3 separate regions of the Homo sapiens genome follow, and all the other regions are linked to region 3. Evidence: fine-mapped expression QTL. A gene starts in region 3. Each other region holds a variant in brackets. All regions are shown on one strand. Distances are from middle to middle. Region 1 has its middle 18 kb from the start of VNN1. Region 2 holds the start of VNN1 (vanin 1). Region 3 holds the start of VNN2 (vanin 2).

The links.
Region 1: its variant is fine-mapped to the expression of VNN2 in blood mononuclear cells (TOPMed, PIP above 0.99).
Region 2: its variant is fine-mapped to the expression of VNN2 in blood mononuclear cells (TOPMed, PIP 0.98).

What each region holds. Positions count from the first base shown.
Region 1 is chr6:132,726,816-132,737,885 of GRCh38, reverse strand. It overlaps the pseudogene VNN3P. Among named protein-coding and RNA genes, the nearest start is that of VNN1, 18 kb to the right of the region's middle. The variant T/A (reference allele first, on the strand shown) is at 8,220.
Region 2 is chr6:132,713,792-132,724,861 of GRCh38, reverse strand. It overlaps VNN1 (vanin 1), which reads left to right and starts at 10,807. Exons shown (of 7, transcript NM_004666.3): 1 at 10,807-11,036. The coding sequence starts at 10,827. It also overlaps the pseudogene VNN3P. The variant T/G (reference allele first, on the strand shown) is at 3,161.
Region 3 is chr6:132,752,309-132,763,378 of GRCh38, reverse strand. It overlaps VNN2 (vanin 2), which reads left to right and starts at 5,475. Exons shown (of 7, transcript NM_004665.6): 1 at 5,475-5,708; 2 at 5,833-5,963; 3 at 7,344-7,536; 4 at 10,630-10,918. The coding sequence starts at 5,496. RefSeq lists enhancers at 1-9, 2,939-3,128.

The sequences.
Region 1 (11,070 bases), 25 kb after region 3:
AGAATTGCTTGAACCTGGGAGACGGAGGTTGCAGTGAGCCAAGATTGGGCCACTGCACTCCAGCCTGGGTGATGGAGCAAGATTCCATCTCAAAAAAAAAAAAAAAAAGGCCGAGCATTGGTGGTTCACGCCTATAATCCCAGCACTTTGAGAGGCCGAGGTGAGCAGATCACTTGAGGCCAGGAGTTTGAGACCACCCTGGCCAACATGATAAAACTCCATCTCTGCTAAAAATACAAAAATTAGCCAGGTGTGGGGGGCAGATGCCTGTAATCCCAGATACTTGGGAGGCTGAGGCAGGAGGATCTTTTGAACCTGGGAAGTGGAGGTTGCAGTGAGCCAAGATTATACCACTACACTCCAGCCTGGGTGGCAGAGTGAGACCCTGTCTCAAAAACAAACAAACAAAAAAATAAACAAAGTAAGAGAGAAGAACTTCTAGAGCAATGTCCTTGGGATCCAGTGCTCAAAGATAGGGGCTAGACTTAAGTAGGGTCAAGAGGAGTCATTTACAGTAAGGATGGGGGGAGGCAGAATTTACAGGTACAAATGGCTGGCAGGTGGGTTGATACTTGGTGGGAGCTTGTGGAAAGGAGTTCTTTTGAGTTGGATAAATAGGCCTGAAGTTCAGAACGGAAGTTTGAGCTAAAGATAGAGACACAGTCATTATCCTTTTGTAGAAGATAGTTGAAGGTATGAAGTAGAAAAAAACCTGGGGCCAGGGGAGAGGGTAGAGTAAGGGACTGAAAGACAGTGAACAACAATGTGGCTACTGGCCATAAGTGCATTAAGAGTTTAGAGAAGGGAATAGCAACAAGACTGGAGAGGCAATGGATTTGAGCTCGAAAGGCAGGATTTGGTCAGAATCATTCCAGGATCAGAGCAACAGTGATCATGTTACAATAAGAAGAGTACTTTTAGCTAAGAACACAAAATATAAAATGGAACCAAGAGAAAGAAGGCTCTTACTGTCTGCTTTGATTCAATATATGCATGGGAAGTATCTTAATTAATGACAGCAATGGTCAAGGGAACTCTAATGGATTACAGTATTGAGGGTTAGGGTGGGAGGAGTGGGATCAGAGAGGCTGATGGAGAGCCTGAAAGAATTCTTATTTATGGGGTCAGGAACTTGATAAGGAGAATGGAGAGGAGGTTTTACAATGAGTTTAGAAATAAAGATTTGGGGAAAGCCAGTAAACTCTTAGATATTTTATTACAGCACCTCTCCTTTAAGATGTGTCCCTTACATATTTAAAAGAAGAATTATATTTATTGTAATACAAAACTTCTGACTCTAAACTTCTTAATCCTACAATAATGCCAGACTGTCATAAGGATTATGTACCAATACAGTGTTTCAAATAACTCATAGCTGCACGCCTTATACACCTAGGAAGCAAAGACATTACTAACAACATTGGGTAATCAAATATTTAACTCAAGTTTCTATTGATTTCAACACACAAAAAAAGCTGGTACATTTCCTGGAACTAGGGGCTGGGAGAATGAAGGGGAATTCCCATATGTTTCCTTTTGATTCTATTCAGAAAGTCAGGTGAACCAAGAAAAGAGTTAGAATTTCAACTTGAAATATGAAAATTATTTTCTTCTCATCCCAGATCAATCCATCTGTTTTACATAGTTTCCCTCTTCTCCTCAGAAATTTTTTTGGAAAAGAACTTATGTCTGATGTCTGATGAAAACAATTTATGTCAGACATAAACTCAGAATTTAGGGCTGAATTTATGTTCATATGTCCTTATTTCCTGAAATGGTATCAGGGCATAAGGACATATGGAAACACTGTGGGGTATCTGGGAGCAGAAATATTTGGATAATGGAAAAGTTTATTGAAACCAAGGGACTTTGAATTATAGAAACAAACCAAACCCAAAATAGACACAAATCTCCATAACTTACAATTTTCCTTAGATCTTAGAAAGAATCTCAAGAGGGAGAAGCAGTGTTAATTGTTCTAGAATCAGAGATTTAAACCTTAAAAAAAATTCTACATTTTAAATTAACTGATATTCAAACAAGGAGATTCAATCCAAAATTGGGCGAGGGAAGTGAATTTAACTAATCAAAAAACATTTACAGAGCTTAGCACAGTATAAAATTCTATAGAAGCAGCAGAGAATTATAATGTGACCCTGCCCTTAAGGGACTTATAAGGATGATATGTTTAAAAAATAAAAGAATTAAAGGAGAACTTAACACTTTTTGAATTATTGATTAGTCTTCATATGGAAGCGGGTTTAAACTGTAGAAGACAGGTAAAGTAAATTGCATCTCAATAACAAGAATGTTCTTAAAATTGGCAATGTTCAAAGGTGGAATAGACTGGCCCATCAGGTAGTAGATTCCGTCATTCAACATTCATTCATATATTGAGCTTTCACCATCTGTCACACATGTGCTGGGGTGATGAGGTTCAACAGTGAGCAGGACACTTCCCTTACCCTCCAGGGGCCACATCCCAGGATACATCATCTCTGTCTAGATGTTTATTGGACATGGATGTTCTGAAAGAAAACAGCAAGTTTCTTTTTAATCTCTTTAAGAAGACAAAACATACATATATAATATTAAGTATTGGTATAATATTTAAATTAAAGGTCAAGACAACAGCAAGGAGTGAGAGACATTCAGCAGCACAGAAAAAAATGCTATAGGAGTTCAGAAATATCACTTAGGACTGGAGTGGATTTGGGAGGACTCTAGGGGGAGCTGGAACTTAGACGGATGGAGAACAAGGGCTTTTCAAATAGAAATGGCCATACAAATATGTAAGTAGAGTGCTCAACAAATTGTTGCTATGATGACTACCTTCCAATATTGGCCCTATTAATAGAAATGTTGGCTTACCAGGAAAATTTTTTTTTATTAGAAAAGACTTCAACTGCCAGTGTGTTTTGGACTGGGGTGAATTCATCTGGTTGGCTCAATCTTTTAGTGTTGACTTGACTCTGAACAATGTCAACAACTGCACTGTACACTTGAATCAATCCAATTACGTCCTGGCTGTCAGTTTTCTTGCACAACATCCTTTCTCAATGCTGTGTTGTGTAATATATGTGCAAGAAAATATAAACAGCTGATTGCCAGGAGGGATTTAATGTAAAGTTTTTCCAGTGAAACAAAACGTAAGAATCTGAGTTTGTTTTTCAAAGATCACTAAATTTTAGTTATGATTATATCACATTTTCCAAAATGTGTGGCAGTTTTTGCCCTCCTTGCTCTGAGTGTTGGTGCACTGGACACTTTTATTGCTGCAGTATATGAGCATGCGGTGATATTACCAAACAGAACAGAAACACCTGTTTCAAAAGAAGAAGCTTTGCTCCTGATGAACAAGAACATAGATGTTTTGGAGAAAGCAGTTAAGCTGGCAGCGAAGCAGGTATTACCCTTTTATACTTGTAAAGGAGACTTGCAGTTTGGTCAAAGAGTATTTGGAATTCATGACAAACTTTTTTGCCCCACTTGTTTCGAGCAGGGTGCACATATCATTGTGACCCCAGAAGATGGAATCTATGGTTGGATCTTCACCAGGGAGAGCATTTACCCCTATCTAGAGGATATACCAGACCCTGGAGTGAACTGGATTCCATGTAGAGACCCCTGGAGGTAATATCATATCATTAATTTCTAAACAAAAAGTTGTGATTTGGTAAAACACCAACAGTAAACTCACTGAATTTGACTGGTAATTGTGTTGATAAATAGTCAATCTGTGGCATAGGATGTAGATGCTTTTTTTTCCCTGTAATTTCAACTTTTAGCTTAGATTGAGGGAGTACATGTGCAGGTTTGTTACATGGGCAAATTGCATGACGCTGAGGATTGGGGTACAATGATTGCACCACCCAGCATAGTATACAACAGGAAGGTTTTCAGCCCTTGCCTTCCTCTCTCTCTCTCCCCTCTATTAGTTCCCAGTGTCTATTGCTGTCATCTTTATGGCCATGAGTTCCCAATGCTTAGCTCCCACTTATAAGTGAGAACATGCAGTATTTGGTTTTCTGTTCCTGTGTTAACTTGCTGAGGATAATGTCCTTTGGTGCTGCAAAAGACATGATTTTGTTCCTTCTTGTGGGCACCTAGGTTAATTCCATATCTTTGCTGTTGTGAAAAGTGCTGCGATGAACATACAAGTGCACGAGTCTTTTTGGTAGAATGATTTCCTTTCCTTTGGGTATATACCTAGTAATGGGATTGTGAGTCGAATGGTTGCTGTGTTTTAAGTTCTCTGAGAAATCTCCAAACTGCTTTCCACAATGGCTGAACTAATTTACATTTCCACCAATAGTGTGTAAGTGTTCCCCTTTCTCCATAGCATCTTTTATTATTTGACTTTTTGTTAACAGTCATTCTGACTGGTGTGAGATGATATCTCATTGTGGTTTTGCTTGGCATTTCTCTGATGATAAGTGATGTTGAGTGTTTGTTCACGTGTTTTTTGGCCACTTGTATGTCCTCTTTTGAGAAGTGTCTGTTCATGTCTTTTGCCCACTTTTCAATGGGGTTATTTGTTTTGTTTTTGCTTATTGATTTAAGTTCCTTATGGATTCTGGATAGTAGACCTTTGTTAGATGCCTAGTTTGCAAATATTTTCTCCCATTCTGTAGGTTGTCTATTTACTCTGTTGATAGTTGCTTTTGCTGTACAGAGCTCTTTAGTTAAATTAGGTCCTACATGTCAAGTTTTGTTTTTGTTGCAATTGCTTTTGAGGACTTAGTCATAAATTATTTTCCAAGGTTCATGTCCAGAATGGTGTTTCTTAGATTTTCTTCTAGGATTCTTATAGTTTGAGGTCATACATTTAAATCTTTAATACATCTTGAGTTAATTTTTGTACATGGTGAAAGATAGGGGTCCAGTTTCAATCTTCTGCATATGGCTAGCCAGATATTCCAGCACCTTTTGTTGAATAAGGAGTCCTTTCCCCATACTTATTTTTGTGAACTTTGTTTGAGCTACAGATGGCTGTAGGTGTGCGGCTTTGTTTCTAGGCTCTCTATTCTGTTCTATTGGTCTATGTGTCTGTTTTTCTAACAGTACCATGTTGTTTTGATTACTGTAGCCTTGGGTAATGTGATGCCTCAGGCTTTGTTCTTTTTGTTTAGGATTGGTTTGGCGATTCAGGCTCTTTTTTGGTTCCATATGAATTTTAGAAATTTTGTTTATAAATCTGTGAAAAAATGACATTGGTAGTATGTTAGAAATAGTGTTGAGGCTGGGTGCTGTGGGTCATGCCTATAATCCCAGCACTTTGGGAGGCCAAGGCAGGTGGATTACTTGAGATTAGGAGTTTGAGACCAGCCTGGCCAACGTGGTAAAACCCCATCTCTACTAAAATACAAAAATTAGCTGGGTGTGGTGGTGTGTGCCTGTAATCCCAGCTACTCGGGAGGCTAAGGCATGAGAATTGCTTGAACGATAGAGTGAGACTCTGTCTCAAAAAAAAAAAAAAAAAAAAAAGAAGAAAAGAAATAGTGTTGAATCTGCAGATACTGCTTATGTTTCATAGTGTATATCATCTGGCATATCTCCTGTTTGGTAAATGACTTGAGATACTGATGACTAGTTGGTTATTTGTTGCAATTGTCTTTCAACAATAGTAGGTGTGACCAGGCGTGGTGGCTCACACTTGTAATCCCATCACTGTGGGAAGCCAAAGCAGGAGGACTGCTTGAAGCCAGAAGTTTGAGACCAGCCTGCGCAGCAAAGCCAGACCCTATTTCGGCAAATAAAAAATTTAGCCAGGTGTGGTGGCTCACACCTATAATCCCAGCTACTCGAGAGGCTGAAGCAGGAGGATCACTGGGGCCCAGGAGTTTGAGGCTGCAGTGAGCTATGATTGCACCACTGCACTCCAGCCTGGGTGACAGTAAGACCTTGTCTTAAAAAAATAGTAGGTATAGGCCGGGTGTGGTGGCTCACGCCTGTAATCCCAGAACTTTAGGAGGTGGAGGTGGGCAAATCACCTGAGGTCAGGAGTTCGAGACCAGCCTGGCCAACATGGTGAAACCCCATCTCTACTAAAAAATACAAACATTAGCTGGGTGTGGTTGTGCATGCCTATAATCCCAGCTACTCGGGAGACTGAGGCAGGAGAACTACTTGAACCCAGGAGGCAGAGGTTGCAGTGAGCCGAGATCACGCCACTGCACTCCAGACTGGGCAACAGAGTGAGACTCCATCTCGAAAAAAAAATAGTAGGTATATACACAATTTTTATAGTAAATGTGTTTAATTGGGTTTGAACAAAGTGAAAAAGTTGGAATATCTAGAACCTGTGTCCCAAATACAAGTAAGTTGGTTCATCCATGGACACCTGCCTCCTTCACAGGAAGAGTAAAAAGATGAATGAGCCTGTTTCCAAAGAGCTTTGCTATCACTGTCATTCAGAATGCAATCAATATGGCCAATGGAAATTGTATAGGACTTGAAAAAGGAAGCCCTACTTCTGGGACCACATTTTACGACCACCTAGCTGAGTGATGTAAGCGTATAACCTAAATGCTTAACATTTCTGTTTCATTATCTGTAAAACAGGGATAATAGAGTCCCTTAATTCTCTTACAGATCAGACAAGAGTAATGAAGTAATACACATGGAATTTGTACATTGTGATGCACTCTCCAATGCTAGCTGTCACTATTCCTTTTTTTTTTTTGTTAACAGAAGGGACTGAGTCTGAACTTCTTTGTGTTCTTGTCCTTTGAGAGACTTTAGTAATTATTAGTAGATGTAATTTAGGCATAACTTTCTTAAAGAAAATATGCATAATAAATATGATATCTGTGAAATAGATTATTTTAGTTGTATTAACTTTTAAAAATAGTTTAAGATTATTTCTTTAAATGGCAAAATTGATGGGTTAAGAAGTCATTTAACTTGCTAATTTTAAATTTACATGCACCTGTTTAGAACTACACCTATTGTGCAAAAAGAGAAACTTCTTTGATAATTTTACCTATGTGAAATTAAGTGGAAAGTCATGCTTAATGGTACAACATTCAGGCTCAGCTATGTGAGTCAAACCTCACTCTGGGATTTTGCCCTTTGGAAAAATATTCTCTAAACATTGCATGGTCTGTGTTTACAGAAACCATGTCACTATGATTCAACATCTACTTGCTTATGAGGCGTTTCCCAGAACAGGAAGGAATCATTATTTGCTGCAGTTGATGAGGCTTACACGAAAATGTACTGTATTTGACTGGGCTAATGAAACTGACTTTTCCAGGGAAAATATATCCATAAATTTGATAATTAGCTATCGATAAATTATTTTAAGTTGGGAAAGTAGGTGACTGATGAAATGTCAACATTATGAACTCTTACACCTACTTATTCAAATGACAACGTTTCAGTTTTGTGTTACAGAAAGGAGAAATCCAGTATTTAATATAATGATAATATTGGAAAAGAAAGTCAGTTTTCTCCCTGGTGATATTTATCCCTGAAGAGAATAGTAGAGAGGCATGCGGTCATCCTTGTGCATTTAAATATTTAGAATGCTGACATGTCAAACAGTTCCATGGGCTTTTTTCACGAGTAACTAGTAGGAAATATTAAATAACTCAAATTATTTAGTCAAGAAAAGAAAAATTAAACAAAGTACATGATAAAGTTATTAAAGGTCTTAATGAATATGAATATTAATAGTACTTCTCTGTTTTTTTTAGAAGAAAATAAAAAGAAAAGGTCTAAACCAGTAGGCCATTAATCTGTCCTTTTTATTCAAAGGTTAGTTTAACCTCAATTGCAGAGGGGCTGTGAGTTCATAGAGAGACATGGAATGGCCTCTAATCACACAATCCATAATAGCAATTTTCATTTACTGAGCACTTACTTGGTCCCAAGAACTGTACCTGGTATACTATACCCATTATTACATTCAATTTATGTAGTTGGCATTACTATTTGCATTACAAATATGTGAAAAAAGGAAGGCTTATGATCTCATGATTGATCATTAGATTGGCTGGAATTAAAACAGCTATGTCATTTAACTGTGCTAACGGAATGGACTCTAAGGGCCTAGATGAACCATATTATAATAAAATTTTTAGTGACTAGCAAATCCACTTATTTAACAGAGTGAGCTGGTTGCTAAACATTTTTTGTCTTATTTTCTGCTGAAATCTGCCTCACTTTAACTTCCTTTCGTCTTTTTCCTGCATTCTATGCTATGTTCACACATA[T/A]GACCCATCTCCTATAAATTAAGCCTTTCAAATATTTGAAGCCAGCTATCACCATGCTACATTCTCTTCTTATACCAAGGATAAATATCTTTAATATGGATGGACTTGGTAAAACAATTTCATGTCTGTACTTATCTCAGGATTTCTCATGTGGATCCACTAAGGCAGAAAGGAAGCTATTGTTTTACATTTGACAGATGAAGAAACTGAGTCAGTACAGTGAAGTGCTTTTTATTTTTTATTTTAATTTTTAACATTTCCACTACTTACAGCTATATTTGTTTTTTTATAGAGACAATCTGGAGGGTACAAACTATTTACTGTCACCTGGCATTTCTGTTTCCAACCACATCTCGTATCAGCAACCTTGTACAAATTATGGCTTGGATTATAGAAAAGGTCCTCTCCATTAGCAGAATCTGCTAAATTTCAAGTGCTTCATATATCTTCCTGGGAGCACTTCATAAGAGAATGTGCTGCTTCTTTTCATCCTCCTCTTCCTCTTCCATCTTTTCTTTCCTTCAGTCTTGTACTGTAATCTGGAGTTTGGCATAGTAAATTAGGTTAGCTTTCAGGAAGATAAACACTGTATCACATGAGAGTTTTAAAATATTTTCTGTTGATTCTTGACCTAGAGCTGTTGTGTTATGGGCAATGGGCAAATAAAGTATCACTTTGGTATTTCAGAAATCACTAAAATATAGTAAGTTTGAGGAAATGTCTATTGAATTAGATTCGGCAACACACCAGTGCAACAAAGACTCAGCTGCCTGGCCAAGGACAACTCTATCTATGTCGTGGCTAATATTGGGGACAAGAAGCCATGCAATGCCAGTGACTCTCAGTGTCCCCCTGATGGCCGTTACCAATACAACACTGATGTGGTGTTTGATTCTCAGGGAAAACTGTTGGCACGCTACCATAAGGTGAGCATCACTTGTGCCTTAGCTCAACTTGTTACTTCTTCTGTGTGCTTGTGGTATGTATGTGTGTTTGTTTGTTGAATGTTGGGGAGAGAACTGTTATAGATGCATCTTATAATTATTACATCATAGTTGAAAAGGAGATTTAATTCAGTTCCATATAACCGTTCTGGGTTTGCATTTATCATAAAACAGAATATGGTAGAGTATTTAAATGGATGTGACAATAGCCACACAAAGCTTTTAATGTTCTCTGAAAAAGAAGTAAACATTCTGTTTCATTCATGATTTAATATCAGGTTCATTTTTTAGCCCAATTTGTTAGCATTTCATACTAAGCTACCATGTATTCCATTAGGACTTTTTTGATTGCAATGAAAACAAAACCTCAAATGAAAATGGCTTTAAAAAGATGGAAATTTCCTTGCTTATGCACATGTAAAAATGTGTATCATAGAAAGGACAGGTCTCATTTCAGTGCAGTCTGACACTCAGAGGCTCCAAAGTTATCATCCACCCCTCTAGCTCTCCTAGCCCTTTGTTACAGCTTCTTTCTCAGGGGAACTCTCCTTTTAGAAGCCACATTGCTGGAGCAACACGAAATTCACATCTTTATCAACAAAATCTACAGGAAGGGTGTATTTCTCCCTCCTAGAACCTTGCAAAGGCCTTATCGCTCCTTGATTCAATTAGGTGACGTGCCTTTCCTGAGCTAATCACCAAAGGATGAGGGATAGGCTGCCACATGGGAGGAGAAAGGAGGAGCAAGAGGCCTCCATGGACCACAGAGGTGGGAAGTAGCTCTCCCCAGAGCACACACATGCACACAACAGGCCAAACAAAAACCTGAGCAAAACATATGCTGTACTCCTGAGCCCAGGTTAAGTGGAGTTTTGGAAAAAGAATCAGGCTGAAAAATAAAATAAAATTATGAATGGCTTACTAATTAATAATATGTAGCAACTGCATTGTCTAAATTAATTTTCAATGGACTTCACTTCTATAAACCTGGCAGTATCATTGGGACACATGACAAAGTTTATTTTATTAACATAGTAGTGCTGTTGAAATTTAAAGAATATAGTGGAAAACAATCTGAGAAGTGTAGGATTCAAGATTTCAACCTGTGATTTTAAGATACACATTTTCACATTTTAAATATCATTTGTACATGTGGTTTCATTCATTGGTTGTAAAAAAAATAAAGTTTTTTTATTAATGTCACAGTAAGAAAATGTATAGATGGTGGTATAGTGGGGATGATTTTTACAAATGTATATGTAACAGTTTTATTTTGTTGTTGTTGTTGATTTTGGAAATGGAATCTTGCTCTGTTGCCCAGGCTGGAGTGCAGTGGCGCGATCTCGGCTCACTGCAACCTCGGCCTCCTGGGTTCAGGGGCTCCCCCTGCCTCAGCCTATGAGTAGCTGGGATTACAGGCATATGCCATCATGCCTGGCTAATTTTTTTTGATATTTGTAGTAGAGACAGGGTTTTACCACATTGGCCAGGCTGGTCTCGAACTCCTGACCTCAAGTGATCCACCCGCCTCAGCCTCCTAACATGCTGGGATTACAGGCGTAAGCCACCACACCTGGCCTATGTGTAACACTTTTAAACCTGCATGTCAACATACATGAGAGGAAAGATTTAACGGGGAAAGACTTAACTGATCACATCTATTTGGCAGTTTTCTTATTAATTTTCTTCTTCTTTGCTTTTTATTAACAGTACAATCTTTTTGCACCTGAAATTCAGTTTGATTTCCCCAAGGATTCAGAACTTGTGACTTTTGACACTCCCTTTGGGAAGTTTGGCATTTTTACTTGCTTTGACATTTTTTCTCATGACCCAGCTGTGGTGGTGGTGGATGAGTTTCAATTGACAGCATTCTCTACCCCACAGCATGGTACAACACGCTGCCCCTC
Region 2 (11,070 bases), 39 kb after region 3:
TGCAGCTGTTGACTGGCATGCGTATGCCAGCAGTGTCAAGCCATTTTCCTCTGAACAGTCAGATTTTCTGGGGATGATTTATTTTGATGAGTTTACCTTCACCAAGCTTAAGAGAAATACAGGAAATTACACAGCTTGCCAGAAAGATCTGTGTTGTCACTTAACTTACAAGATGTCTGAGAAGCGAACAGACGAGATCTATGCCCTAGGTGCTTTTGATGGACTGCACACAGTAGAAGGCCAATATTACTTACAGGTAGAAATGCTTTAATATGTTAAAGTGGCCTTATTATCAGTTTTTCTTCTAGGTCATCATTGCCTTTCTTTGAAAATTGGGCTGGATTTAGCTAATTTTATAATTAGTAATGTTATATTTATCTCTGAATTTTGTCCCCAGAACACATTATTTGTTCAGTCTTAGCAAGAACAGAATTAGTTCTTTTAGTTGAAAGGCAAAAACATAAAGCAAATTGATTAGTTCTCAGCAGGCCAGGTTCAGGTTTCAAAAGCTGCAATTTCTGTGTATTCTCTTTTCCCGTCAGGTTACTTTAGAGCAGTGTTTTTCAAATTGTCTTCAACTAAATCCAGAGAAAGAAGGATATTTTACCTCATAACCCAGTGTAGCCAAGTGGATGTGTGACTGAATAAAAAAAAAGATATTTAATTGAAATAGTTTATGAAATAATTTAAAATAGAATTAGAAATAGCTATTATTATGTGCAATGCACTCTGATTTTTAAAATCCTAGTCTATTCTATTTGACTTCAGTATAAAAAGTGTTAATCCTGACCCACTATATTGACTTTAGGATTCATTAATAAGTTGTTACCTGCAGTTTGAAAAATACTTCTTATGAGGCAATTTAAATATGCATTTATAGTTTGAAATTGCATTATTTAGCTGAGAAAATATTTGCAAGTTTTCTGACTCCTTCTCTTTTCTTTTCTTCCATAGATATGTGCATTACTGAAGTGTCAAACCACTGACCTGGAAACGTGTGGAGAACCTGTGGGGTCAGCTTTTACCAAGTTTGAAGACTTCTCCCTCAGTGGCACATTTGGAACGCGTTATGTTTTCCCACAGATCATTCTAAGTGGGAGTCAGCTTGCCCCTGAAAGACATTATGAGGTAGGAGGTGTGCAGGATGATAAATTCCTTTGAGCAGAGTAGATGGGTAGAGCAGCATAATGAAAATCTTTGAAATAATGAGAGTATAGCAATATCGTGGTTCACATTCTACAAGAAACACCTTAAATATGTGGAAACTATGATATGGAATATAAATTGTGGTTTTAGATTGCCATTAGGCTGTGATGGAGAATTTGGGGTTCATTTTTTTAACATAAATGTGATGTTGATATTCAAGGCAACAGGAAATTCACAGAGAAGCTAAAATAAAAATGTTGACTGCTGATAATGGCAATAATGTTGTCATTTGCATGGTGTAGAAGGTGCAAATTAAATACATTAAATAATGCATCTACAACTTATTTTCTGGGTATACTATTTTGAGAAGTTGTTATAATTATAGTAATAACTAATATTTTGTATAGTGTTTCATGAGTTTGAAGAACATATTTTTATACATATTATTTGACCACCTGTGCAACAAATTTGTTGGCTGCACTTTCGCACAAAGTCCCTCTACTTTCAGACTTGAAACATGAACCTGGGTCTTCCAACACCAAATCCTGTGTGATTTTTACCATTCTACACTGCTTTAGGAGGGAGTGATCTTGCCTGAGAAGGGCTCTAGGTTGTAACCTAAACTCTGCACTGAAGTTAACCCTTTGCTTTCTTTGACCAGATTTCAAGAGATGGACGCTTGAGGAGCCGAAGTGGAGCCCCTTTGCCTGTCTTAGTTATGGCCCTGTATGGAAGAGTGTTTGAGAAGGACCCTCCACGCTTAGGGCAGGGATCTGGGAAATTCCAGTGATCTCCTTTAGCAGAGCCCTTTTAGGATTAGCCTGGCTAAGAAAGGAAGAAAAAAAAGAGATCCGTTAGTGTCTGTTTAGAAAAGATGTTATAAACTTACAGAAACAAATATAATAAACTGAAGCAGATTTGAAAAGCAACAAGTGTGTGTGCAAATTTCACATTTTACATGTTTGGTATAGCACAGGTTCATTTATGGGAGCCGCATTCATCCTCCATGTATGTGAGTTTAAGTATATGTAAGTATGTATATGTATAGTGGAGCGTATATTTAAATAGGAGGAGGTCCTAGAAAAATCCTTTTGCAGTAACTGCACTAATGTATGCAAGTGTTGTTTCCATCATATGATGGTTAATTTTATGTGTTGATTTGACTGGGTCATGAGATGCCCAGATAGCTGGTTAACCATTGTTTCTGGGTGTGTCTGTGAGGGTGTTTCAAGGAAGAGAACAGCATTTGAATTGGTGGACTGAGTAAAGCAGACGGTCCTCCCCAGTGTGGATGGTCATCGTCCAGTCCCTTGAGGGCCTGCAGAGAAAAACAAGAAGGAGGAGGTTTGAATTCATTTTCTGCCAGACTACTTGAGCTGGATAGAGATCTTCTCCTGCCTTCATGTGCTCCTGGTTCTCAGGCCTTCAGGCCTGGACTGGAATTGACACCATCAACTCTTCAGCTCTCAGGCCTTCGAATGACACCCCTGGCTTTCCTGCATCTCCAGCTTGCAAATGGCAGACCAGACTGTGGGATTTCTCAGCCTTCATAACTGTCTGAGCCAATACCTTATCATAAATCTCTTTCTCTCTCTCTCTCCTGTTGGTTCTCTTTCTCTGGAGAACCCTGACTAATGCACTTCATTTGTAAATACATAGGATGAACTTTGAATATGCAGAGGGTATTTGATTCCAGCCAATTAAGATACAGGAAATTAAAGAATAAGGACATCTTTTAAAGTAACTATGAACAACTTTTTAGCTAGTATTGTCCCTTTAGTCATGACTAATTTGACTCCTAAGTTCTATTTATATGGAAATTGGATACTTGAAATGGATTTTTTTTTTTTTAATTTTTTTGAGACCGAGTCTCACTCTGTCCCCCAGGCTGGAGTGCATGCAGTGGCACAACCTCGGCTCACTGCAGCCTCCGCCTCCCTGTGTAGGGAAAAGAAAGAGAGATCAGACTGTTACTGTGTCTGTGTAGAAAAGGAAGACATAAGAAACTCCATTT[T/G]GAACTGTATCCTGAACAATTGTTTTGCCTTGAGATGCTGTTAATCTGTAACTTTAGCCCCAACCTTGTTCTCACAGAAACATGTGTTGTATGGAATCAAGGTTTAAAGGATCTAGGGCTATCCGGGGTGTGCCTTGTTAACAATATGTTTACAGGCAGTACGCTAGGTAAAAGTCACCGCCATTCTCCATTCTCGATTAACCAGGGGCACAATGCACTGCGAAAAGCTGCAGGGACCTCTGCCCAGGAAAGCCGGGTATTGTCCAAGGTTTCTCCCCACTGAGAGAGCTTGAGATATGGCCTCTTGGGATGGGAAAGACCTGACCGTCCCCCAGCCCGACACCCGTGAAGGGTCTGTGCTGAGGAAGATTAGTAAAAGAGGAAGACCTCTTGCAGTTGAGATAAGAGGAAGGCCTCTGTCTCCTGCATGCCCCTGGGAATGGAATGTCTCGGTATAAAACCCGATTGTACATTTGTTCTATTCTGAGATAGGAGAAAACCGCCCTGTGGCTGGAGGCGAGACATGTTGGCAACAATGCTGCTCTGTTACTCTTTATTACACTCTGGCCTACATGCACATCCAGGCATAGTACCTTCCCTTGAACTTATTTGTGACACGGATTCCTTTGCTCACATGTTTTCTTGCTGACCTTCTCCCCACTATCACCCTGTTCTCCTGCCGCATTCCCCTTGCTGAGATAATGAAAATAGTAATCAATAAATACTGAGGGAACTCAGAGACCGGTACCCATGCGGGTCCTCTGTATGCTGAGCGCCGGTCCCCTGGGCCCACTATTCTTTCTCTATACTTTGTCTCTGTGTCTTATTTCTTTTCTCAGTCTCTTATCCCATCTGACGAGAAATACCCATAGGCATGGAGGGGCTGGTCCCCTTCATCCCTGGTTCAAGTGATTCTCCTGCCTCATCCTCCCAAGTAGCTGGGACTTCAGGCACACGCCACCACATCTGGCTAATTTTTTATATTTTTGGTAGAGATGGGGTTTCATCATGTTGGCCAGGCCAGGCTGGTCTTGAACTCCTGACCTCAAGTGATTTGCTATCCTTGGCCTCCCAAAGTGCTGAGATTACAGGTGTGAGCCACAGGGCCAGCCAAAACAGAAATTTTTTGAAAAATAAATTAGGTCAGCTGGGTGCGGTGGCTCACACCTGTAATTCCAGCACTTTGGGAAGCTGAGGTGGACAGATCACCTGAGGTCAGGAGTTTGAGACCAGCCTGGCCAACACTGTGAAACCCCATCTCTACTAAAAATACAAAAATTAGTTGGGGGTGGTGGTGCGTGCCTGTAATCCCAGCTACTCGGGAGGCTGAGACAGGAGAATCACTTGAATCCAGGAGGCGGAGGTTGCAGTGAGCTGAGACCGCATCATTGCACTCCAGCCTGGGGCAAGAAAAGCAAAACTCCGTCTCAAAAAATAAATAAATAAATAAATAAATAAATAAATAAATAAAATAAATTATGTCGTTCAGATCACATCTCATTTCCTTCTGAAATTATTCTGTTCTGAAATCTACCCAATCTTGGTTGAGCCCTTCTCAGTGGTCAGGGGTTTATTGCAGGCTGTGCCAGGCTGGGAGCTTCCTAGACAGGACCACCATGTCACCTTTTCCCCAGATACCTCTGGCCCACTGTCTTGGCTCTCTTAGTCATTTTTCTGGTTGGTCACTGATTAACTCTGGAAAGAGATATGCTGAAGAGCAGCTGGGTTCTCTGGGTTATGTAGGAGACACCTCTTTGTCCACAGAATGTTTGACAAACGCATTTCTGAACTTTTCCTAGGTGTTTATTTCCACCTGCTATAATTCAGTCCAGTACCAGTAAGTCAGAGATATTCTGGGTGGCAGAAAATGCACTCGGTTTCCCCCTCCCATTTTTCCTGGATTCTCTCTTCAGGGACTATCACTCTCGGATCTTAGGTTTGTGCCCCCGATTCCTCTGTGTGCAGTAGGTGGGCATCTTCCCTCTTTATCGCCTTACATTTGTTCCTTCTAGAATTCTTTCTTCTCTTTCCTAAGCCAGTTGTCTGTAGGCTGCATTATGTACTCTGGTTGCCCCAGCTTCCTTGGCACCTCTCACCTCATGGCATTTTTATGTAAGCTGACTCCTGCCCCCCTCTTTATTAAAAGGAACTTTAAAATCAAATCTCGGGGCAGGCTACCATAACTCACACCTGTAATCTCAGCACTTTGGAAGGACAAAGCAGGCAGATGGCTTGAGCCAAGGAGTTTGAGACCAGCCTGGACAATATGGCAAAACCCTGTCTCTACAAACAATAACAACAACAGCAAATTAGCCGAGTATGCTAGTGTGATCCCAGCTACTGGAGAGGCTGGGGTGGGAGGATCACTTGAGCTCAGGAGTTGGAGGATTACTTGAGCCCAGGAGATAGAGGCTGCAGTGAGCCAAGATTGTACCACTGCCCTCCAGCCTGGGCAATAGAGTGAGACCTTGTCTAAAAAAAAAAAAGTCAAATCTCATGGTCAGTTCTCAGCTCTTACTAAGCCTGTACTTCTTGGAGTAATTTTACCCCCCACACTTTAATGCCTTTCGCTTTTTATTTTCGTTGACCTTTTTGTCTCTTCTCCCTCCTCCAACCACATTTATTTTGTTTGTCATTGATATAAATGATGCACTCTGCTAGACTCAGCTCTCACAGCTGTATCTTCCTTATCTAAAATCTTTCTATGGATAGTGAAGCCACTCTTATGGCTTTAATTAATATTTCTGATACAGCAGAGTATAACTCACTGGTAAACAAAAAAATTTTTTCTTTCATGAGAGCAAGTTCAAGCCACATCATCATGTTTACAGGCTACATTAACAATGCAAAAATAGTTTTATTAAGTCCTATGCAGAGATATGTATTATTGTAACATTAGCAACTTGTGATATTACAGTTCCTGGCTTATAACTCCCATATCCTTTGTTAGGGTTTTTTTTTTGTTTGTTTGTTTGTTTTAACATTAGGGGGTTTTAGGCCTCAGGAGCAGGCCTCATGAAACAGAATCTCCCTCTCTGACCTTACCCTGTCCTCCCTTTACCTACCTAAGGCAGGACTATAATCTGATTGTGGCTCAAAAGACCCTCATTTCAGAGAGGGTCCCACCCCATACCCTAGAGGAAGAAATGCTATAAAGAGATGTCAAGACAAACCTGAACAGACAAGCTTTACTGGGTTTCCCCACTCAAACTGTTAGTATGGGATCATAACCTTTTTGTCCAATCGCATTTCTACATGGTTGTCAATCGTGACTATGTAATGAAGCTTCCATAAAAACCCAAAAGGACAGGGTTCGGAGAGTTTCCTTACAGCTGAACACGTGGAGGGTTCCTGGAGGGTGGCACACCTAGGGGTGCGTGGAAGGCTCTCCAGTCCTTCCCCCATACCTTGCTCTATGCACCTCTTCATTTGTATCCTTTGTAATATCCTTTACAATAAGCCACTAAAGGTAAGTGTTTCCCTGAGTTCTGTGAGCCACTCTAGCAAACTAATTGAACTAAAAAAAAAAGGGGTCATGGAAACCCCAACCCAGAGCCATTTGGTCGGAAGATCTGGAAGCCCAGACTTGTTACTGGTGGGAAGGAGGGGGCGGTTTTGTGGGACTGAGCCCTTAACATGTGGGATCTGATGCTATCTTTGGATAAATAGTATTTGGATTGAACTGGAAGATAGCCAGCTGATGTCTGATGCAGAGTCAATTGCTTGCTTTCTAGTGGGGAGAAATCTCCACCTACTTGGGAGTAACCAGTCTTTTGTGTTAGTTGTTGTGCTATGAGACCAGAGGAAAAATGGATTGTTTCTCCTAAAACCAGATTAATGTCAACAAAAGAATTGACATTGTGTTGTAGCCACTAAATATTAAAATATGGGCGTATATTTTGAGTAGCAATGCAGAGGCCGACTGCCAATCAATCTTTTATCAGACACAAGTATATGGACACACTTTTACATGCTGTGCACATGGCTTTTCAGAGTTCACCAGGTGAAGTGCAAGAGGCAGTGCCCACTCCACTCAGTCCTTGCTCTTCCCTCCTTTTCCCTTGTTTCTGGTTCTCTCTGCGTAAGCTGGGCAGGACTTGCTTCTGAGTTCCTCTGGGGACCTGCTGCCTGGGGTGGGGTGATCACTGCTGTGCTAGCAAAATCCAGAATACTGTGGGTCTTGCCCTATTCTGGACAGTGCGATGTCATGTTTTCCTTGCAAAAGGCAATCTGCTCCATCTATGCAAGTTTGGTTGGAGGAGTCTGGAGGTATCAATTAGGGCTTTTGTCTACACTCAAAGTCATTTCCTTGGAGACAATTCTCCCAGTTTCTACTTTGTGTGAGCAGAAGGGCTGCATTTGGGGACCTTGGCTGGCTGTAGCAGTAGGGTTAAGGATCCAGAGAACCAGCCTAGGAGTTGTAGTAGAGGCTGCTGGTGCCTCCCAGTTCCATGTCCTGCTGATGATACTCTACTGCAAGAACTGCACTGTTTCTATTTCTATTTCTTTCTTTCTTTCTTTCTTTTTTTTGAGACGGAGTCTCACTCTATCACCAAGCTGGAGTGCAATGGCGCAATCTCGGCTCGAGGCAACCTCCGCCTCCCGGGTTCAAGCAATTTTCCTGCTTCAGCCTCCCGAGTATCTGGATTATAGGCGCCCCCGCCCCCCACACTGCTCCCTTCCATGCCCAGCTAATTTTTGTATTTTTAGTAGAGACAGGGTTTCTCCATGTTGGTCAGGCTCATCTCAAACTCCTGACCTTTGGTGATCCTCCCGTCTCGGCCTCACAAAGTGCTGGGATTATAGGCATGAGCCACCGCGCCTGGCCGAACTGCATTATTTCATCTGAAGATTTGCTCTCAGCTAGTACATGCTAAGTAGGCCAGAAAGGGTAGATTCATGTGGCAGTGACATGCTGGAGGAGGGACAAGGTTATTGGTCCTATGATTTAGTCTCAGTCTTTTAGTGAGCCTGTACCCCTGGGTTTATGAACTTCACTTGGCTTTTTTCTTCTGCCATTAGTTGGCATAAAAACAAGCTAGAGATGAGATTTTCCCTTTCCCCAAGTTAAAGATTAGAGTGGCTGGGGTTGGCATTTTTCCTTCCCCTAGGTAGGTTAGGCTCTGGTAAAATACTTTACTTTGAGGGCAGGCTTTTGTTAAGAAGAACAGACCAGAACTCTCAAGGTTGTCCACCCTGAGCCTCCACCAATTCGTCAATTACAGTTCAAGTGAACCCACGGTACTGGCGCCAGCCGCAGAGGACTCTGCTCGCAGTACACTCTTAACCTCTGTATCTGCCTATCTCTGCAGTTCTGAGGACCGCAGTTTATCCTGTGATCTCAATTCTCTGATGCATCCTAGAAAAGTTGTCGATTTTCATTTGTTTAGCTTTTTTCTTGGTGTGAGCATGGGAAAAATGACTGCCAAGCTCTTTATGAGTTGGACTAGAAACTCCACGGGAGGTTTAATATTTTTAATCTAAGAAGGTCAAGAAGTAATTTTTTAACCTCTTGCCAACTCATCTCAGTTTTAACTTTTATTTCAGTGCTTCCTTTTACAAATTGTTACATAATAATGACATCTTTTTGTGAAATATGTGGTATTCCCACCCACCTGGGCATGGAAAGGCCCTAAGAGGTCAGCAAGCAGTTAGAGAAGCTGGTGTTTACCGGAAACTCAGGAGAACCAGCCAACCACAACCCCTGGGTTACCTTGGCAATTGCAGAATAAATGCATTATAGTTACTAAAGTAAAAAATTAGATATGCCTGTTTGCAGATTGAACTATAAAAATACCATTCAAAGACAAATAGATCTAAAAATAAAATGGAAAAACATAAACACTAATTCTGTAAATATTATACTTAATGCACAACTGAAACAAAATTTGCCAGCTTACTCAATATCAAAATCTATGAACAGTTTTTCTATTTTATATAATTTCCCTCTCCTCTCTCTGGATCTCGCTCCCCAGCTCATTTTTTCTTTTTTTTGCTCTGATTCTTTATACACCTCTGTTGCCTCTGTGATAAGCAGCTTCAAAGATGGTTCCTAATGCTTTATTGGATAGAATACAACAAAAGCGATGAGGTGTTGCTTCCCCAATTACATTACGAAGCATCCGTGGCTTCCATCTCCAGTGGGTTCACTTGCTGTCTGGCTCTAAGGGAATCCAGATACCATAATGCGGGCTGCCCTATGGTGAGGTTTGCATCACTAGGAACTCATGTCTCTGGGCAACAACCAATGAGGTCTTGATCCCTGCCGTCAGCCACATGAGGGAGCTTGGAGCTCGGAAGTGAATCCTCCTGGAGTCAAGCCTTGATATAGCTAGCCCTGGCAGCTGCTTGACTGCAGCCTTGTGAAAGAGACCTTGGGCCAGAGGCACCAGCTAAACTGCCCCTGGATTCCTGACCCAGAGAAAGTGGGAGATGATGTATTTTTGCTTTTTGAAGCTGCTGAATTTGGGGATAATTTGTTATATAGCAATAGAAAATGAGTAACTCTTTTGTATTCCTCTTTGTCCTGGCTTCCCCATTTTGAGGAAAATAAAGTAAATCAAAGTGTAGAGCTGAAATATTCACATGAAAATAATAATAAAGTTTTAAAATTATTTGAATGTCTTGTGTTGACATTCCAAAATATATGAATTCCAAAAATTTATATGTTGAAGTCCTAACTGTCAGTATCTTAGAATGTAACTTTTTTGGAAAAGGGGTCATTTCAGATCTAATTAGTTAAGATGAAGTTATACTGGAGTACAGTGGGCACTAAATCGAATTGGTCCTATGATTGAGTCTCAGTCTTTCAGTGAGCCTGTACCCCTGGGTTTATGACCTTCAGTTGGCTTTTTTCTTCTGCCCTTATTTGGCATAAAAACAAAGCAGGTGGATCACCTGAGGTCAGCAATTTGAGACCAGCCTGCCCAACACGGCGAAACCCTATCTCTACTAAAAATACAAAAAATTAGCCTGGCGTGGTGGCGGGCGCCTGTAATCCCAGCTACTTGGGAGGCTGAGGCAGGAGAATCACATGAACCCGAGAGGCGGAGGTTGCAGTGAGCCGAGATTTCGCCACTGCACTCTAGCCTGGGTGACAAGAGTGAAACTCCATCTCAAACAACAACAACAATAAACAAACAACAACGATGACAAAAAAAGCTAGAGCTGGGATTTTCCCTTTCCCTGTGTTAAAGATTAGAGTGGTGTCCTCACAAAAAGGGAAAACTTGGATACAGGCACACACATGGGGAGAATAGCATATGAAGAGACACAGGGAGAAGGCAGCCATCTATGGGTCAAGGAGAGAGGCCTGGAACACATCTTTCCTTCACCGCCCTCAGGAGGAACCAACTCTGCTGACACCTTCATCTGGGACTCCCACCCTCCAGAACTGCAAAGCAATAAATTTTTTATTTTTTACACCACCCAGTTTATTGTATTTTGTTAGGCAGCCCTAGCGAACTAATGTACATAGAGTTCTTGAGTTAATCTTCACAAATTACTGCAATAAGGTAGGGTCTTTTGTTATGTAACAATGCTATGAAATCATAGCGTTTTCTTAATTAACTTCCGTAGTTTAAGGTACTAAGTTCTGGACACCACGTGTCTTCTTTCTATAAATACCAGGACATGCTCTGTTTTTCAGCACTCATTGGACTTCAGCATGACTACTCAGTTGCCAGCTTACGTGGCAATTTTGCTTTTCTATGTCTCAAGAGCCAGCTGCCAGGACACTTTCACTGCAGCTGTTTATGAGCATGCAGCGATATTGCCCAATGCCACCCTAACACCAGTGTCTCGTGAGGAGGCTTTGGCATTAATGAATCGGAATCTGGACATTTTGGAAGGAGCGATCACATCAGCAGCAGATCAGGTACCATCTCTACCATCTCTCCAGTGTACTGGAT
Region 3 (11,070 bases):
GTAGTTACCTTGGGCTGCAAACATTATTTTTTCTTTGCTTCCTTGCTCACTGAAAATAAACAAGTGGCATTATTGGTGGATTGCTGTGACATTCTCATATTGATCAATAAGACATAAACTTTTCTATTTTTAATCTATCTTTTTTTTTTTTAAGTCTGCGATTTCCATGATATTTTCTTACCATACCCTTTCAAACGCATGTCTCTCCAACTGCCTACATAAATCAACGAGTGACTTGGATCCAGTTCCTGTGGATTTATTTCTGTGGTGACAGTCATCCCGACTTTACCAAAAGCTTTTAATTCAGTCAAGAGAATTTTTAATTTTTTAAAAGGACCGGCTGGTGAATGCAAGAAACTTTTGGCAGGGTTAATAGACTGGCATAGTGGGTGGACCTATGAGATTAATATTGTTAATATTTTATTTTAAGGAAGCAGGAGCTGTCGGAAAGTAGGGGAGGATGCTACTAACTCAAAGGGACTTCTGCAACTTCAACCCTAAGTTTCTGAGACAGGAAAACAGACATGTTGGTTGAACCATGTGAAATTACTTTTGCTAGGTCAAAAACAGTGATGATTGGCAATTTCATGTTGCACAAGCATTTCCATCTAGCAGTGCTTTCAGAGAATCCAAGGCTGTGATATATCATTACCTTCTCAGATTTGCTCTGGTTTCAGCTGTGTTCATTAGCTATCTGAAGCATTGAACACCCATCCAACTCTAAAGCTGGAAGATTACCTCATCTGAATGAGACCTGGCCCCAAAAGATGGTTAAAGTTCAAGCTGGTTCTTTTCAAGGCAACCTTGCCTTTTACAGGGCCTGACTCAGTCTCACTAAAGCCATATGTAATACTCCAATGGTGTAGAGACAGAAACGTTTTTCTTTGCCATTAAGTACTTTTTTTGGATACAGTATTGTACTTTTTTGGTATACAGTATTAAGAGGAACAGTTTTAACACTGGAGCCTGGCTTTTCTGCCTATTGTTGCTTCTTATTCTTATTTTGACGTGTCACCCTTGCTGCCTGTGAGAATGTCATTGATAATAATACATGATATTTCCCATTCTTTGTTTCTCAGTTCACTTGTCATTTTGCATTCAGGAGAAGGGACAGAACAGGAAGTCCAGTAGCCAGTGTCAGAGCCTGGAGCAGCTCCTCTCCTTCCTGGGGTTGAGTTCCTTGGTTTTCTTGTTTCACCTTTGCTACCCCACTGCAGTTTTTCTACCACGCTGGGTTTAGCACGAATCAGGAGTTGATGCCCAGGTACCCTGTCAACCCCATTTCATTCCAGCAGTTCTTCAGCACGGTCATCCAAATAGACTAGAATTTGAATTGAACAACAGTAGTTCTGTGGGCCTAACAATGAAATAATATTAAGCAGTCAGGATATTATATTACTAAATAGTCACTCACTTTTGTTAATTATTGTCATCTGCGTTGTAGTCTTACAGAGGACTTTCACATATCTTTAGGAGATAGAGCAGGTATGATTACCTAAACTTTTAGATGAGAAATAGAGGTCCAAAGAAGTGGTGCAAAGCAGAAACTACACCCCTATGCTTACTCTTGAGAAAGTGGGAAAAAAATGAGGTTTTTAAAATTAAAGACCTAAAACCTAGTCCAATTGAACATTATTCTAACAGATGATCAGATTCACAATTAGAAACAAATATTTGAGCTATTACTGTTTTTCGTTTATTTGCTTGTTTTTTATTTTTGAGACAGAGTCTCACTCTGTCACGCAGGCTGGAGTGCAATGGTGCTATCTCGGCTCACTGCAACCTCCTCCTCCTGGGTTCAAGCAATTCTCCCGCCTCAGCCTCCTGAGTAGCTGGGATTACAGGCGTCTGCCACCATGCCCAGCTAGTTTTTGTATTTTTAGTAGAGACTGGCTTTCACTATGTCGGCCAGGCTGGGCTCGAACTCCTGACCTCAAATAATTCGCCCGCCTCGGCCTCCCAAAGTGCAGGGATTACAACCATGAGTCACTGCGCCCACCCCAATACTGTTTTTTTTTTTTTTATGGTGACTCTTTGACCAAATAATTTTTAATTGATTTTAACTTTTTACCCCTTTAGCTAAGTTCATTAATCCCAAAATGGCAAATTAGGAAGTAGGCTCTTTTAGCAACGAATTACAATTAATCAATGTTCCCTGTGGCAAAATAACCTTACTTTATTTTATAATTCAGTTAAACTAAAAATTTTAATCTTTACCTGATCAATCATCTTTATGAAAAGTCAACTATTGAAACTGTATGTCCTGAATTTGGTTTTTTACTTCTGAAGATTTAAAACAATATCAATGACCTCTACAGCAAATATTTTCTTCACATCTCAGGGATTTTCCTATATTTAAATTGCTCCTTCATTTACTAACTTCTAATTCTTTTTTGCAATTACCTTTGTTACTCAAATTCTCAGTTTCAATGAGACAATTTTTAGATGCTTCAAATAAAAAAACAAAGGAGGGAATTTAGTCATCTTGATTTTATATCAGAAGTGATTTTCCCTTTCCCTGTTAGCCAAACAAAAAATCCAAAACTCTGATCAACATCATTTCTATCTTTTACAGCCAAGGACAGAGAAAAACATCCAGATTTGGGAACACAATAACAGATATGATTGTCCCCACTTCTACTGCCAAAATTATAAAACTGTTAACTCCTCCTCATCAGCTTACCTGACTACTTAAAAGCAAAAGAGTTAATTAAGTATTACTAATTGGTGATACTAGATCAATGAAGGTAGGTCATGGCCCAAATTGTACTTATGGAGATGGAAGAGCTTAATTGTTTTTATTAGGCATCAACTGCATCAGAAATTTCATTAGCACTTAGCAAATTTGCCTATGGTCTTCTTAAGGTGATCATTTTGAATTGGGTTCTTTAAAAGACATGAATGACTGGCTGCAGTGACTGACACCTATAATCTCAGCACTTTCAGAAGCCAAGGTGGGTGGATTGCTTGAGCTCGGGAGTTTGAAACAAGCCTGGGCAACATGGTGAAACTTCCTCTCTACAAAAAATAACAAAAATTAGCCTGACATGTTGGTGCGTACCTGGTGTTCCAGCTACTAGCGAGGCTGAGGTGGAAGGATCACTTGAGCCTGGGAGGTGGAGGCTGAAGTGAGCCATGATCATACCACTGCACTCCAGCCTGAGCAATAGAGCAAGACTCTGTCTCAAAACAAAAAAACAAAAAACAAAAAAACCCCAAAAGACACGAGTGTTCAGACACTCAGTTGCAGACATTAAAAGAGAGCACAGACACATGTGCTGTTTTAGGTATAAAGGAAAGACTCTGGAATCAGGAATGAGAAGCGAACATCCTGCTCTGTCGCTCTAGCTCTCTATGCCTCAGATTCCTATCCTGTAATAAGTGGGCATTTGGGTTACATGATTTCTAAACTCTAACAGCACTCATAATCTATTATATACCAATCACCTATGCTAATTTACTAATTATACACTAGATAGTATGGTTATATACTAACAGTCTATTATACAATCTGCTAAAAATTCATAAAAATATCTATCCCTTTACATTTTCCACAAAAGGGCTTGACCATTTTTCCTGAATTATTTTTAGTTTTCTGCTCTATAGAGATAAGAAAAGTTATTCCTTTAATAGAAACTTCTATTCAAAGCAGAAAATATGAGCAGATCTTATTTATAGCCCCTAGGCCCCATTCTTAACAAAACATTTATCTCAGTAAGAAGGAAAGCACAGAATAAACTTTGTTTAATCGTACCTACTCTTCTATGCTGTCTAAAAGCATTTCCGTGACTTTTACCAAAGGGCTGGATAAAAATAAAACAAATCCTTTATTTGGCAGGATTGGGCCTGGGGAAGGGAGAATATGAATGTCCTAAGAAGGCATCTGAGATCACATCCTGTATTTGTTGTTATTATTGTTTTTTTTTTTTTTTTTTTTTTTGAGACGGAGTTTCGCTCTGTCGCCCAGCCTGGAGCGCAATGGTGTGATCTCAGCTCACTGCAGCCTCTGCCTCCTGGGTTCCAGCGATTCTCCTGCCTCAGCCTCCCGAGTAGCTGGGATTACAGGCGCCCACCACCACGACCAGCTACTTTTTGTGTTTTTGGTAGAGATGGGGGGTTCCACTATGTTGGCCAGGCTGGTCTTGAACTCCTGACCTCAGGTGATCTGCCTGCCTCGGCCTCCCAAAGTGCTAGGATTACAGGCATGAGCCACTGCACCTGGCCTGTTAGCATTGTTTTTAAACTCATTGTTGTTATTTGCTGCTAACAAAAATGTAAGTTACATCTTCTCCTTATTACAACACAGATGATCTTTATCACCAATCCTGGACTCTTCCCCTTCCCTGGCATCTTCCTCCAAAGCAGGGGGTGGGGAGGGAGGAAAAAGAAGGAGGAGAAGGAGTAGGAGGAGAAGGAGAAGTAGGGGGAGGATGGGGAGGGAAGGGTGAAAGAGAGAAAGAAGGAAAGAAGCGGAGTATCCTGAGGCCTGGGGCCCCTGAGCTGAGATTCCTCCTCTGGCCTAGGTGCCTCGGGGTATTGTTGCTGTAGGCACTAACTATACAGCAGTGAACAAACCAGACACAAAATCCTGCTTTTCTGGAGCACATGTTTTCAGTCCTTAATAGCAATAAGTAAGTCAGAGTGTAGATTTGGGTAAATTTTGTTATCAATATTGTCCTGTGTTACATTTTCTTAGTAGTAAGTATTTAATATTTTCCCCCCCGTCTAAAAATAAACACAATGTAAGTGACTCAACAGAACCAAAAAAATTGTTGTCAATTTTTAAATTTAATAAATGAGATATTTGTTGGGATGTGATTTTTTTACACGAGAGTTAGTTATGAGTTTCTATTAACAAAAGCTGGAATTGTTCTATATTTGAATTCGGGTGTCTTTTGGAAATTCAATATTAAATCTTAGTACTAATAGTACATGCTGTTCAATCCCTGTAATACTTTCTGATTGTCTTAAATGGACTGCAACTTTTCTTTCTTTAAAAGTGGTCAGATATATTGCGTTCTTAAGATTATAAAGTAGGCCAAGTGCAGTGGCTCACGCCTGTAATCCCAGCACTTTGAGAGGCTGAGGTGGATGGATCACAAGATCAGGAGTTTGAGACCAGCCTGGCCAATATTGTGAAACCCCATCTCTACTAAAAATACAAAAATTAGCTGGACGTGGTGGCGCGCACCTGTAGTCCTAGCTGTTTCAGAGACTGAAGAAGGACAATCGCTTGAACCTGGGAGGTGGAAGTTGTAGTGAGCTGAGCTTGCGCCACTGCATTCCAGCCTGGGTGACAGAGCAAACTCCGCCTCAAAAAAAAAAAAAAAAAAAAAAAAGAAGAAGAAGAAGAAGAAGAAGAAGAAGAAGAAGAAGAAAAATGATGATAAAGTAAAAGGCCAGTAACTGGCAGCCACATGTTATGCAAACATTCTCCCCTCTGTAAATACTACATGAATGTTATTTTTGCTTTCAGAAATCACTAAACCTTGGCCATGGTCACTTCCTCTTTTCCAATCTCTGTGGCAGTTTTTGCCCTAATAACCCTGCAGGTTGGTACTCAGGACAGTTTTATAGCTGCAGTGTATGAACATGCTGTCATTTTGCCAAATAAAACAGAAACACCAGTTTCTCAGGAGGATGCCTTGAATCTCATGAACGAGAATATAGACATTCTGGAGACAGCGATCAAGCAGGCAGCTGAGCAGGTATTCTCTTATTTCTGTTAATCATAATGTACACGAGGGGCATGGGAGCTGGTGGAAGACGAGAGAGCTGAATTGTCTGTGTTGTACATGGAAAAATCATTTTTATTTTGCTTGTTTTGAACAGGGTGCTCGAATCATTGTGACTCCAGAAGATGCACTTTATGGATGGAAATTTACCAGGGAAACTGTTTTCCCTTATCTGGAGGATATCCCAGACCCTCAGGTGAACTGGATTCCGTGTCAAGACCCCCACAGGTATTTTAACTATCTTAGTCTTTTGTGCAAAAGTAACTCTCTAAAATGCGCACGTTCACCAAAGCAAAATGATTGCTCTTGAATTACCATATATGTGGTATATGTTATGGTTATATTTATCTCAACATTTGTCAGATTTTAAAAAATTGTACTTAGATACTATTTAACAATCTTTTGTGATTGAAAATCTTTATTAAATTTTGAGAAAATGTGTAAATAGGGTATTCCTGCAAGAAAAACTAAGGGAAGAGATCTCATAGATACAAGTAGTAACTTAATTTCTGAAGTAGACAGTGGATTGTGTTAGGAATACATTCCAAAGCCTCTGCTGAAGGGACACCCTTTCAATGTTATAGAGTCTCTCCATTCCAGAGTTGCTTCTTAGGCAGAAAGACTTCACCATGTATTTTCAAGTGAATCATAAGACCTTATGCTTTGAAACTGCATTTTCCTAGGCTCACAAATCTAATTTTCCTGGGAAAAGGTTATCTAGAAACCTTCTAATATATATTAAAAATCTGGGTCCTACTGTCATCCTGGAGGTGTCAACGTGGCAGTTGCATGGACAAGTCTGGCATGAAAAGACAAAATTATATCTGGAGATAGAAAATCAAATGTCAGCATATAGATGGTGTTAAACACCATGATGAGTTCACCTGTGGAGTGAGTTAGAGAAGAGTTTAGGTATAAGGCTTGAGCACTAGGAAATTCTAGTGTTTAGACTCGGAAGAAAACGAGGAATCAGCAGAAGAGTCGAAGAAGAGCAACCAATAAATAGGAAAATGAGAGGGTGGGTCCAATAGAGAAGTGAGGTGTTTCCAGAAGGAGGTGTAATTAACTGTGCCAACTGCTGTTGAAAAGTTAAGATGAGATCAGGTAAAATGTGGGGGTCACTGCTGGCATTAGTAAGAGTTTGGGTGATAGAGATACAAGTTGGAGTGCTCTGAAAGGGAATGGGAGAGGAGGAACTGGCAACAGCAAGAGGGACTGATCTTTTGAGGAGTTTTGCTTTAAGAGAGAGATGAGGATTAAAGCAATATTTGGAAGGGCATGTTTGGAAAGGTCAAAAGAGGTTTTAATTTTATTTTTTAAAGATGGGAGGTACTAGAGGATATTTCATTGCTGATGGGATGTTTCAGTAGAGAGGAGACCCTTGATGAGGCAGGAGACCGAATAATGAATTTCTGGAGCAATAGATACCGTGTGGGAAGCATTCATCAAGTGTATAATCATCTGTGGCTTTTAAAGTATGATATTTTTAGGCATAGTTTTTGTATTAACTTAAGTTCCACTTAAGTGGTTACAGTTGCTATCGTTTCCATATAAAGTGACTAAAATATTTTTTTAAAATTGAAATTTCTTAATTATAATTTGGTTTAGATTTGGTCACACACCAGTACAAGCAAGACTCAGCTGCCTGGCCAAGGACAACTCTATCTATGTCTTGGCAAATTTGGGGGACAAAAAGCCATGTAATTCCCGTGACTCCACATGTCCTCCTAATGGCTACTTTCAATACAATACCAATGTGGTGTATAATACAGAAGGAAAACTCGTGGCACGTTACCATAAGGTAAGAGAGAGTGACGGACGTGTAAAATGGAGCGTGTTGTGAGTGGTCAATGCTGGGTTTAGGAGTTTGAATTTCATTCCCTATATGATACAATATTACTAGAGGGTTTTTTTGTTTTGTTTTGTTTTTTGTTTTTTGAAAGTGGGCAATAAAGAAAATGACACTTTTGGCTGGGCGTGGAGGCTTATGCCTGTAAGCCCAGCACTTTGGGAGGCTGAGGCAGGTGGATCACTTGAGGCCAGGAATTTGAGACCAGTCTGGCCAACATTGTGAAACCCCGTCTCTACTAAAAAATACAAAAATTAGCGGGGCGTGATGGCACATGCCTGTAGTCCCAGCTATGTGGGAGCTGAAGCAGGAGACTTGCTTGAACCCAGGAGGTGGAGGCTGCAGTGAGCCGAGATTGTGTCACTGCACTCCAGCCTGGGTGACAGAGGGAGACTCTCAAAAAAAAAAAAAGAAAAAAAAGAAAAAGAAAAAAGAAAATGACACGTTGTAAAAAACTACTCAGAAAAACATGTAGGCAGAGAACTGTTAAAAAAAAAAAAAAGTAGCATGATGGTCCAGGATTGAGATAAACTTTTTGCACATATAAAACAAATAATTTTAACATAAAAAAAGATACTAAGGTGACTATAATCTGGGCACTGTTTCAATAATTTTATATTTTTTTAGAGACAGGGTCTCACTGTTGCCCAGGCTGGAGTGCAGTGGAGCCATCATGGCTCACTGTTAACCTCAAACTCCTGGGCTCTAGTGATCCTCCTGCCTCAGCCTCCCAAGTAGCTGAGACTGTAGGCATGTGCCACCATGCTAATTTTTAAATATTTTTTTGGAAACAGAGTCTCACTACATTGCCCAGGCTGTCTTTGAACTCTTCACCTCAAGCAGTCCTCCCACCTTGGCCTCCCAAAATGCTGAGATTAGAGGCATGAGCCACTGAGCACAGCCATAATCTAAATACTATTTAATATTGAAATGGTAGAAAGATGTTTCAAAATTGTATGAATCAGCTTTGCATAAGTTAATTTGCTATCAAACCACAAAATACCTTATTTTCTACACCAGCTAATTTAATTACCATCTTATAGATTTAAGATCAAACCATAAAATGTTTACTTTAAATTCTGAATTGAAAAAAGGAATCAAATAACCTTTAAGTCATAATTTTATACTAAACTAGGTAGAGAAAGAAGCCTGGCCTTTTAAATGGATATGTGTGATGTACAGGCAGTATGAATGTCCCTTCTCCACACCCAGATATTTTGTAAGCATCTTAAACTGTAGCCTCAGAATCTTTGGAGTGGAGAAATTATCTCCTGGCAGTCTCAGTTAAAATATAAATATTAATTAAGAGGAGGGATGTTAAACCAATGGTTTTCAAATGATTTCGATCATGGACCCCTATTGGAAAAAATCGTTAACATAAGTCCTCAATATATGTATTTTTGTGTGTGTATTTATAAAGTGCAACAATTTCAAAATGCTTTCTTCATAATTTTGTGGATTTTGACAGCTTCTTTTCATATATATCACTGCATTTCACTTTCTTCTTAAAATGTGTCTCATAGTAAAAATAGAAAGGTCAGTGCTTCCATTTTCTTGCTTGGGAGATTGTTTGCATTATTTGTATTATCTTTCAATGCAGTTTATTTGCAGTAATCATTTGAAGCTATTCTGCCATTCTGTAAATATGCAGGATGGCACAGTGCACTGAATGTGGACAAACTAGCAAGGAACCTGCAGTCACCCTGTCTAAGTTGAAAGGCTCTCACTCTTCCCTGAGGGTACCTCAGGGACCGTTTGTAACCCATGACCTCTGACATATGTGAACCTAATGAGAATACCTTTGTCGATCAATTCCTTTTTTTTTTTTTTTTTTTTTTTTTTTAGGCAGAGTCTGGCTCTGTCATCCCGGCTGGAGTGCAATGGCACGATCTCAGCTCACTGCAACCTCTGACTCCCAGGTTCAACCCATTCTCCTGCCTCAGCCTCCTGAGTAGCTGGGATTACAGGTGCATACCACCACACCCGGCTAATTTTTGGATTTTTTAGTAGAGATGGGGTTTCTCCATGTTGGCCAGGCTGGTCTTGAGCTCCTGGCCTCAAGTTATCTGCCTGCCTTGGCCTCCCAAAGTGCTTGGATTACAGGCATGAGCCACCTTGCCTGGCCTGTCAATTCTTAAAATAGTAGTAAAGCCCAATTTCTTTTCTATTTTTTAGATATTTTTTCTACACTGCAGACCATTTTATTAACTGTTGATTCCATTTATTATATTAGACTAAGTTTTTTTTTAGTTTACCTAGAAGGAATCGGGAAATTAAATACATTTCTATGGTAATTTTGAAAGGTGGGCAAGAGTCACTGAGATTACTTTGGATGGGACACTAAAGAGAGAGATGACATCTCTCACCTGACTTACAGGTATTTATTATGCATCTATTAATATTACGTTTCTAGGCACCAAGGATTCAAAGAAGAATAATGCATGTTTTTTAACTTTTAAGAAGCTTATAGGGCCAGGTGCTGTGGTTCATTCCTGTAATCCCAGCACTTTGGGAGGCCCAGGTGGGTGGATCATGAGGTCAGGAGATTGAGATCATCCTGGCTGACACGGTGAAACCCCGACTCTACTAAAAATACGAAAAAATTAGCCGGGCATAGTGGCACGTGCCTGTAATCCCAGCTACTCGCTTGAACTCAGGAGGTGGAGATTGCAGTGAGCCGAAATCATGCCACTGCACTCCAGCCTGGGTGATAGAGCGAGGCTCCGTCTCAGAAAAATAAAATTAAATTAAATTTAAAAAAAGCTTACGGACTTTGGGGTTTATGGGGGGGTATTTGGCTCTTAACTGAGAGAGAGGGAAAGAGAGAGAAGGGAGAGAGAGGAGATGAGAGATGCTATGGACGTATGTTACATATTCCTCCACATTTTCCTTAGAAATTTACTTCCAATTGCCAGATTTATCCGCTTCCTAGGAGATTCCCTGCAGTTGACCATAGCCAAATCTGTTACCAACTTAGAGGGTTTTTATGAGTCATTTCTTCAACAAATAAGGTTTTACTGGTTTTCTCCTATCCATTTGTTGTAGTACCACCTGTACTCTGAGCCTCAGTTTAATGTCCCTGAAAAGCCGGAGTTGGTGACTTTCAACACCGCATTTGGAAGGTTTGGCATTTTCACGTGCTTTGATATATTCTTCTATGATCCTGGTGTTACCCTGGTGAAAGATTTCCATGTGGACACCATACTGTTTCCCACAGCTTGGATGAACGTTTTGCCCCTTTTGACAGCTATTGAATTCCATTCAGCTTGGGCAATGGGAATGGGAGTTAATCTTCTTGTGGCCAACACACATCATGTCAGCCTAAATATGACAGGTAATTCATGACCAGGTTAGGTTTCATCTTATATTTTTAAGTGCAGAGAAATGAATGCCTCAGTTATGACTTGTATTAATTTTTTGCTTATTGGAAATTCTTACTGTGTTTGTCATAGTTTCACAATAGAAAAAAAAAGCTAGCACTTGATT